Linked DNA regions of Homo sapiens. The protein of the gene in region 1 interacts with the protein of each later gene in a pairwise test. Each region holds a gene or a part of one and is shown in the gene's direction. Other genes may lie near its edges.

What was found.
Region 2: the proteins of SH3GLB2 (region 1) and CNOT7 interact in a two-hybrid assay, tested with the Homo sapiens proteins (one large-scale study listed by BioGRID).

The regions. Positions count from the first base shown.
Region 1 is NC_000009.12:129,007,294-129,011,474, reverse strand, and holds part of SH3GLB2 (endophilin-B2), read left to right. Parts: intron 1-709; coding exon of another isoform or gene 710-781; coding exon 782-805; intron 806-1,265; coding exon 1,266-1,355; intron 1,356-1,603; coding exon 1,604-1,704; intron 1,705-2,007; coding exon of another isoform or gene 2,008-2,022; intron 2,023-2,128; coding exon 2,129-2,369; intron 2,370-2,683; coding exon 2,684-2,791; coding exon of another isoform or gene 2,792-2,933; 3' UTR 2,934-4,181.
Region 2 is NC_000008.11:17,228,984-17,234,266, reverse strand, and holds part of CNOT7 (CCR4-NOT transcription complex subunit 7), read left to right. Parts: intron 1-1,729; coding exon 1,730-1,840; coding exon of another isoform or gene 1,841-1,846; exon of another isoform or gene 1,847-2,755; intron 2,756-3,418; coding exon 3,419-3,547; 3' UTR 3,548-4,090; coding exon of another isoform or gene 4,091-4,132; 3' UTR 4,133-5,283. UniProt on the Homo sapiens protein: Has 3'-5' poly(A) exoribonuclease activity for synthetic poly(A) RNA substrate. Its function seems to be partially redundant with that of CNOT8.

The DNA.
Region 1 (4,181 bases):
TGCCTCATGTCTTCCGTGCCGTCGTTCTGTGGCTGGGTGACTGTCCCTCAGGCCGCCAACCCTAGTTGGCTCTCACAGCAACTTCCAGTGCTCCTGGACGGGGACTTCCTAAGCAGCATGGGGGCCACACGGGCCGGCCACGCACACTGGCCTGGGTCCGCATTCCCTATTTCAGGCTGTTGTCTCGGGTCAGATCTCCGGAAGCGGCAGGAGCGCTGGGTCTCCTGGTCGTGGCCGGGCAGCGTCTTTCTTCTTCAGGGTCTGGATGCCACTTCCCGCCTCCTCCCTGTGCCCAGTGGAAGGAGAAACATCCTAGAGGGTGGAGACTGCCCTGTTTTTCTTTTGCCATTGAGTCCCAGTGTGACTCAAGCACGAGGCCACCTTTCTCTGCCAGAGGACAGAAAGCTTCAGTGACTGGCCCAGGGTCACACAGTTCTGCCGCCCAGCCCAGCAGCCTGAGCCAGCAGTCAGGATGGGGTGGGGACACTCCGTCTCTCTTGAGACCCCACTCAGAGAATGGGGCTGACACTGTAGGAGAAATATAAGCAGGACTCCTGCTGGCTGCTCCCCTCCTGCATGAGGCATGTTAGAGGGACTGGGACCGCCAGCCCCCAGCTCCCATGCCGGGCCTCGGCCCAGTCTCAGCTCCTGTTTGGGAGGGGGGGCAGAGGGGCAGGGGGGCAGAAGTTGAGTCTGGGAGCTGGGGCAGGGCACAGGCTCTAGGGTCCAGCTGTCCTCCTCTCCCCTCCCCTGCTGGCCACTCCTGCTGCCGTCTCCACAGCTCTGGAATGATGAAGTGGACAAGGTAAGTTGGGGCCTGGGGGGCTGGGCTCGAGGAAGAAGGGGTGGCGGGGTGCAGGCACACTTGCTGCTGTGGGGTCTGATCTGTTTCTCACTCTGCCCCACACCCACTGGGGAGGGGTTACTGCTTTCCCTCCCTGGGCCTCAGTTTCCCCTCTGTGGGGAAATGTTTTCTCCACAGTACCCTGTAGCACACAGTAGGCCCTCAGGATGCACTTGCTGGGTGGATTTCTCCGATGGGTGATGGAGGAAGGGTCTGTCACTGCAGCTGCCTGTGGGGTCCTGAGTGGGGCTCTAGCTTCTCTGGGGTTGGGGCTCCAGGTGTGAAGTCAGGCATAGACCCAGAAGGCTCTCTGTGTTCCCAGGGGAAAGGGACAGGCGGCTCCCAGGTAGGCTCCAGGAGAAGACTGCGGGGAAGCTGGTGGGTGGTGTGTGGGTGCTCATGGCTGCCCTGCCCTGCCCAGGCCGAGCAGGAGCTCCGCGTGGCCCAGACAGAGTTTGACCGGCAAGCAGAAGTGACCCGTCTCTTGCTGGAGGGAATCAGTAGCACTCACGTGAGTCCCACTGCCCACCCTCACTAAACCTAACCCTCAGCAGGCACCAGGTGTGCCTGAACCACAAGGTCAGCAGGGCTGCCCCAGAATGGCCCTCACAGAGCAAGTCCCACCGGGGAGGGTGTGGGCGCAGGGGCAGGGCACCCTGGAATGCCGGAGCAAGGTCTGGTAGAGGACGGGGATGGGGACGGAATTTTTTGTTCTGAGGGCGGGAGGTTAGAAGTCAGCCTCTGGCCTCTTCCCCGCAGGTGAACCACCTGCGCTGCCTCCACGAGTTCGTCAAGTCTCAGACAACCTACTACGCACAGTGCTACCGCCACATGCTGGACTTGCAGAAGCAGCTGGGCAGGTGCGGGGCCAGCACTGCTGAACCCACTGGGGCCCCCTGGCTCCCATACCCTGTCCGTGGGCAGCATGAGCTCCTCTGGGCAAGTCCTGTGACACAAAGCTGGGTTGGAGGGCTCTGCTGGAACCCACTCTGGGTGCGGGCATCTCATGTGTATGAGGGTGGAGTGGCTGGCCTTACTGACGGCCAAGTCCCCTGGAGCCCCTGAGGGTTTCTAGGGAATGCCTGGGTGGGGAGGATGGCAGGGACCAGGGGGTGGGGCCATCTCACCCTTCCCTTGCTTTGCTTTTCCCTTTGTGCTGCCAGCTCCCAGGGTGCCATGTGAGTAGCCGGGGCTGGAGTGGGGCTCCTGGGGCTGGGGAGGGGAGTTTGCCTCTGGGGTCCCTTCTGGGACTCCCACCTGCTAAGATGTATCCCTCCTCTCCAGATTTCCCGGCACCTTCGTGGGCACCACAGAGCCCGCCTCCCCACCCCTGAGCAGCACCTCACCCACCACTGCTGCGGCCACTATGCCTGTGGTGCCCTCTGTGGCCAGCCTGGCCCCTCCGGGGGAGGCCTCGCTCTGCCTGGAAGAGGTGGCCCCCCCTGCCAGTGGGACCCGCAAAGCTCGGGTGCTCTATGACTACGAGGCAGCCGACAGCAGTGAGCTGGCCCTGCTGGCTGATGAGGTGGGCCCGGTGCCGCAAGGTGGGGCAGGAATGGGCTGGGTGAGGAGCAGCCTGGGCACTGGGATCAGGCACATGGGGCCTGGAGGGGCCCTGTTGGCAAAGTGGGGACCAGCAGGTTAAAGAGGGCATATCCAGCTCTGAGGAAAGGATCCTTGCTCTGCTGGGTCTCTGGAGCAAGTGAGATGAGCGCCAGCCACTGAAGGTGTAGCACATGCCACGGGCCATGGGGAGGTGGCAGCTCTGTCCCCACTTAGTCCTGGGGCCAGTTCCACCCTTGGCCAGGCCATGACCGTCCTCTACTGCCATCTCTGCAGCTCATCACTGTCTACAGCCTGCCTGGCATGGACCCTGACTGGCTCATTGGCGAGAGAGGCAACAAGAAGGGCAAGGTCCCTGTCACCTACTTGGAACTGCTCAGCTAGGCAGGTGCCCCCATCCCCCCCGCATTCTGGCCTAGGCAGGAGAGGATGGGCGCAGCCCTGCCACTTAACTTGTTTGTTGGTGACACAGTTGTTCAGAGTGGGGAGAATTCACCCCATTCTGTCCCTGCCCCTAGTCACCTAGCTGTGAGGGTGCCTGAGGCTGAATGGCTCCACCCCTCCCCCAGCCCTGCTTCTGACCTGTGGCTCTGGAGCCCCTGCCCCTGCCTGCATCCCCGAGCACCCCACCCTCCAGGCTCCACTAAGGAGGGAGGGGCTGTCTGCAGCAGCTGCACTCAGCACCTAGGCCAGGGTGGGGCCGCCGCAGATGGGCTCAGGAAGCCCCAGGTGCACTCAGCGAGAGCCCTGCCTTTCAGTTGCCAAAAGCTGCATCAGGGGAATGCGGCAAGGCACACAGGGCTCTGGCAGCCCCTGGGGACTGGGCGCTGCCCCTGGGAGGGGAGAGCCTGGCCAGGGCTGGTGTTGGGCCCGGAGCAGCATCTTCCGGTGCTATCCTCCCCTCCCACCCCTCACAGCTCAAGCCAAGTCCAGCGGCCGCAGTCTTCACCTCTCCACACTCACTTTTTATCTGGTGTTTTTACTTCTGCCTGCGTTTGCTCTCTAGCCAATAAACCGTCCTTGTGTGCGAGTCACCTGGGCTCCTGTCAGGGCCTGGCCCTGAGGGTGGTAAAGGGAAAGGTAGACTCACCCTCTGCCCCACTCTTCCACAGAGTGAGCAGGGGCCCTGTGGCTGCCCCGGCCCCCAGCTCTCTAGTTGGGAAGAAGTGCAGCCCTCCCTGTCTTCTGCGGGGCCTGTGCCTCTCAGAGGGCAGTGCTGTTCCTGGACATGAAGCCGCACAAGGAACGTTTTATTCCTAAGAAAAAGTTTCCTAAATTTGGATTGTGGAGCGGACTGTAGAATGCGTCTGACAGTTCAGTTCAAGCACAAGAAGTGGGTAGCGGTCAGTGCTGTCTGCAGGTCGGGCGTTTCACCCAGCATGTGCCCCCGTGCCATGGGTTCTCATGCCGTCCTCAGTGTCCACATTTCACAGATGAGATCAGCAAGACAGTCAGCTCCTCAAGGGACCACAGTTGGCAAGTGGCCAAGCAGGGACTGAAGCCCAGGCAGCCTGATTCTAGAAACCCTAAGTGATGTCTGTGTTTTAGATGGCCCCTAGCAGGACCTAGCATTCTGACTTCAGTCCTGAGAAGGCCAACAGCCAGTAGGCCCCACTGTTGGGGCTTCTGAAGAGGGGATCGGGGGATGACGGGGGCACGGGGCTATAAATAGGAAGGCACAGAGCTTCAAGAAAGGCTCACCCAGGGATGAGCTCAGCCCACTGGGCCAATGAAAGCAGGGTCAAGGACAGGACCAGCGCAGGCCAAGGAAGGG
Region 2 (5,283 bases), on another chromosome or scaffold:
TGGCTAGAAATTATTTTGTCAGTTCTAGTGATAGGATAATGCTCCTAGGATTAAACTATATAGCTAAAAGATTTTTCTGTGGCCAAAAGATGTCAGCTTGTTACAGTTAAGTACTATGGGAAATGTGTAGGTCCTGCCTAGATAGTAGTAACATTTTGACGCTGCATAACATGTATTTTTAAATTCTAAACATTAATTCTTTTTTTGTTTTTGAGACGGAGCCTTGCTCTTGTCGCCCAGGCTGGAGTGCAGTGGCGTGGTCTCGGCTCACTGCAACCTCCGCCTCCCGGGTTCAAGTGATTCTCCTGCCTCAGCCTCCTGTGTAGCTGGAATTAACAGGTGTCCATCACCACACCCAGCTAAATTTCGTATTTTTAGTAGAGTCGGGGTTTTACCGTGTTGGTCACGCTGGTCTTAACAGATAACTGAAGATGAGAAGCTTTCTTTTGGCCAGTGTTTACCTTTAATACATGATATGGTCAGCATATGACTAGAGAAATTTTCAAGAAAGATTATTTTATGTTTGTAGCAGTAGACTTCTGTGTAATTTGAGGGGACTTCCAGGAAGTGAACTTGCAGTAGGGTATCCCTTGCTTGAGAAATTCAGCCCACCCTGTGAAAGCACTGCATGCTGAGGCCTACATGTTTTCATCTGACTTTTTTTTTAATTGACATGTCTGTATAATGATAGTTTTCAGGAACAGGGAACCAAATTATTGCTCATCATGTGGTTGTTACTGGGAAGTTTCTAAGTACAGATATTCTGAATGTGTCCTGAGTAAGCTGCTGTGTTAAAATTCAGGTTAACGACAAAGGTGCTTTTTGACCTATAGTCAGCCATGCTGTTCTATTCAGTTCTAGTTCTGTTCTCCTAAGCAGCTGCTAACGATACCTAATCCTCGTGCTATTTTTAGCGCAGAAGCAACTGCTGTGCAAAGCCTTGTTTCAAGCTGTGATGCACAGAAGGGCCATTTTGCCGGTGGAGGCCTTAACAAGTTAGAGAAGAATTTTTGTTTTGTTGTTGGTGTTTCTTTCCTTCACGCTCTACTTATTCTCCCCTCCCTTTACTCTCCTTGCCTGTCCTCCCACTTTCTTTCCTTCTGTTACTGTCTTTCTCTTTCTTTCTTTCCACTCTTTCCACTCTCATCTTTCTTTTTTAATCTTAGGAGTATTAACATAGGTGGATTATAGCAGACCACTCTAAGGAGTTGTGTGCATATACTCGTCTTAACTAAGAAAACCATAGTGAAGCATTTAGCATACTCTTAATGATTATTCATAATGGCTTTGTTTTGTAAAAATTAAGTGAAAACTACAAATGGATGGTGGGAAGTTTAAGAAAATATGAAAAAAATGGTGTTATACTAGCTTTTCAGTTTTATAATTATTACTGGATTGATAGACTATGAGTGTACTTGATAAATATTACCCTATATGTGGTCTGCTTCCTTCCCATATCTAGGAGAGTATTTACCTGTCATATGCCCTAAAACATGATGAAAATACATTTTCCCAATTAGGATCTTGTTTTCTATTAAATGATACTTTTTCCGCATTCAACAAATACATTAGTAATTCACATTCTCTGTTTCTTCCCCCCAATCTTTATAAGATTCACCTTTACATACTAAAGTTTATTTTTATTTTGGTCAGCGTCTAAGTTTATAATTTGTGAATTTAGGCCTTGTAAGATTTTTCTTCTTGACAAGCAATTTTTTATTTTTTCTAGGGTGGATTACAGGAGGTGGCAGAACAGTTAGAGCTGGAACGGATAGGACCACAACATCAGGCAGGATCTGATTCATTGCTCACAGGAATGGCCTTTTTCAAAATGAGAGAAGTATGAAGACATCACTGCCTTTTTCTCAGTTGGTTGTTAGGTTGAGAACATTAAAAATCTTGTGGCCAAAGATTTTGGGCAACAAGTACCTACTAAGTAAAGATATAATTAGAGATACCATATGAGTCACATCCACCACACTTAAAAGTATTCAAAAATAAGTCATCTTGAAATGTAGTTCAGAAGGAACTGGGAGAACATGTTCATCATAGAACCAACAATTTTAAAACATAAACTACCTGAGAAGTCATGTAGGTCCAACCATATTATTTCTCAGGTGAGAAAACAGGCTAATAACTTCCATGATTAAACACATTACTAGTGGGAGAACTCCAGAGTTCTTTTCTGACTCCCATTGGTGCTCCTCCTACAAGGCAAGGAATCTTTATATTAGGTTTATTCTAGCATGACCCCTTTTAAGGTTTAAACTGGTGATAAATATATTATTTGCTCATGTCATTCTTCAGTGCTTTGAAGATTTTATAGAGAAGAACTCAGGCTCTTTTACTGCATTGAGTCTTAAAAGGGGGGTTGAATTCCGAAGGGATCAAATAAATCCAACGTAGTAGTTGCATCAGAAACCATATTAGGAAAACCCTCCTTAAACGGCAAAAGGCAGAGATCAGTTCCTTGAGTATAAAGTGTTAGGGATGGAAGAATGAAACTAAATGAACCCATTATCTACTCCTAAGTAATTAAGTGATGTGCACAGATACACCTAGCTATAGGTAAACAGGAAAATTGGTTGTGCAAAAAACAAGTGAGGTTTTTCTTGACTATAAGTTTTCCCTTTTGGAAAAATTCGCTGTGGATTTGAGTATATTTTCTCTTAGACATTAAATTGAGACTGAGAATTTAAAACTTTTTGTAGCAATGTATTGATAATAGAAAGCATTAAAGCTGTTTTGCTAAGTAGTGTTGTTGATTCAGAAGTGATTTGGACTATCCATTCATGACACGTAAATATTTTGTTTTGGACTCCTTCCAATTGTTTCATTAGATAATTGAAACAACCTTTTGGATTTTTTAGCTTTGCATTTTAAAAATGTCTTAATGGTTTATTTAACTAAAGGTGGATTTCTGGCACTAATTTATCTTTATTTTTCTTGGCTTCTTCAAGGACAGTAATAGAGTGTGAATGTTTGGATTTTACTGTCCATGACTTTATGGTTTGATCATTTATAGCCAGCTCAGCCTTGCATACAGATTTAAGACAGTTTATGAACCTAAACTTTTTTTCCCCCACCATCATTGGCTTTCTTCATTCTTGAGTATTGTTAAATTAATGGAATAGTTATTTTTCCATGATGAAAAATTCTTATAAAAATGGTCTAAATGGAAAAGACATGCATTTATACACTTTTTTTGTAGTCTCTTTCTTTGGTTTCTGAGCTCTGTACTTTTGAGGACATTAGTCTTACTCATTGAACTGAAATGCGTAGCCTCAAAGGAACACCATAGAAAAGAGCCATCATTATTGTCAGTGAACAGTCAGTACTTACATTGCTGAAATATAAATTACAAGTGGTTCCTTTTGGTTAAAATTATCTTTTTTTTTTCTTCAAAATTCCTTTTTAGATGTTCTTTGAAGATCATATTGATGATGCCAAATATTGTGGTCATTTGTATGGCCTTGGTTCTGGTTCATCCTATGTACAGAATGGCACAGGGAATGCATATGAAGAGGAAGCCAACAAGCAGTCATGACATGAAATAGTCCTTTTATTTTTATTTCGAGCTACACACATGCTTGTATATAGGTTTTATCTCTGGTTGAATCCCTCGAACAATAGACAGTACCTTTCCCCCCCCTTTCATGGCCCATTTTATTGTCTGCCTTTCAGTACTAAGTATGACCGTTCCTATCTCAGATCTTAATAAAAAGAAAAAAAAAAACGCATTCAGGTTAAATTTGGCCTTAATTTAATATACTTGTTAGCAAGCGTGTGTGACAGAGAGTGGGGAAAGCTACATCATTGAATATTTTGATAAACTTTACCGACTTGAGTTTGGTTTATTTTTCCCTTTTCCTAAATTAACTAGCACTGACTGTAATTTATTTCCCTGTTTCACGTCTCTCCCTTCCATTCTGCAGGAGTTTTAGCTATTTGAGATCGTGGACCATCAGTTTTGCACTTTAGAGAGTGTTTCTGACTCTAAACCTGTTTTATCAGAAAATTTGTTTTTTCTTGATCTTAGCTGGAAAAATCTGCCAACTTTACACAGTATTTACTTGGTTTTGACCCACAGAATATAGCACGTTGTGCAAACTGTCGATTCAGCGAAACTTAAAAAAGACAAGAAACTACTGAGGAGCTTAGTAACTGCTGTTTCTGTACGTAGTGTTTAATCTTCCAAGCACATCTAGTGTCTGTCAGTTTCTAATTGGCATGTGTAGGCTGCTCTGTGACTGAAGAATTTTCAAACCAGCTTTACACCCTTCAGGAAAAATCCCTTGTGATTGGATGTTTACTATCTGCCAGGAAACTGGTACTCAAGATGTTGAAGCTACAGTTATTTTATGATAGCACACTTCCCTTGATCTGCTTATTTTTATTCCATCACCATTTACCCTTTTTTTTTTTTTAAATTTTGTAGCCATTCTTATGATGCTCTTGATTTGTTGGTTACACAAATCAATTTTATTAAAAATCCAAAGATAAGTCTTTAGGTATATTTTGTACCAAATTAAATTAGAAGACAAAAATTGTGCTTTCATAGTTGCTACAAAGGTAAATAATGGAGAGATTTGGTACAAAACAACAAAATATATATATATTCTCATATATATATATATAGCTGATAAAATTACCTGAGGAGTGTAATGCTTATTTTTTTGTGTATATCTTTGCAATCTATTTTATATATATTGACAAAAGAGACTGTGAAATACTTAGCCATGCAGAATATGTGACCAGACCAGAGCATGTGTAGGAAGACTTTACGGTAATCATTAACTCTACCCCGAAATGATGGACTACAAGTTATAATGTGTGTTACCTACACTTCAATCAGTAATATTAGCAAATCTCCAAATGTTAGTCACATTGGTTTGTCTCCCTTGTACATTCTTTATTCATGATATTACAGTGCTGTAACTGGGTGGTCCTTTTTAAACAAAACATTATTTGCAAAACAGAGGGTATTATTTGTTTTTAAAGCTTTTGTAAATAAAGGCTTCAAAATGTTTTCTTATAAATGTTGATGACTGGTGATTTTCTTTTGGAAATACTTATTTGGGGGATATTGTTCATTTTTATTTGGGCAACTCAACAGAATTCAGTAACTTCCTTCATTAACCCTAGATGATTATTAGTCCATTAATTGAAAAATCAGTCTGAGTTTTCTGCATTTCAAGTGTTGGCTTATTCTTGTTCTTTATGAGTACCTCAACTAGCTAATTAAGGACTGACTTCTGTTTCTCCTTTCCAGGAATGCATTTA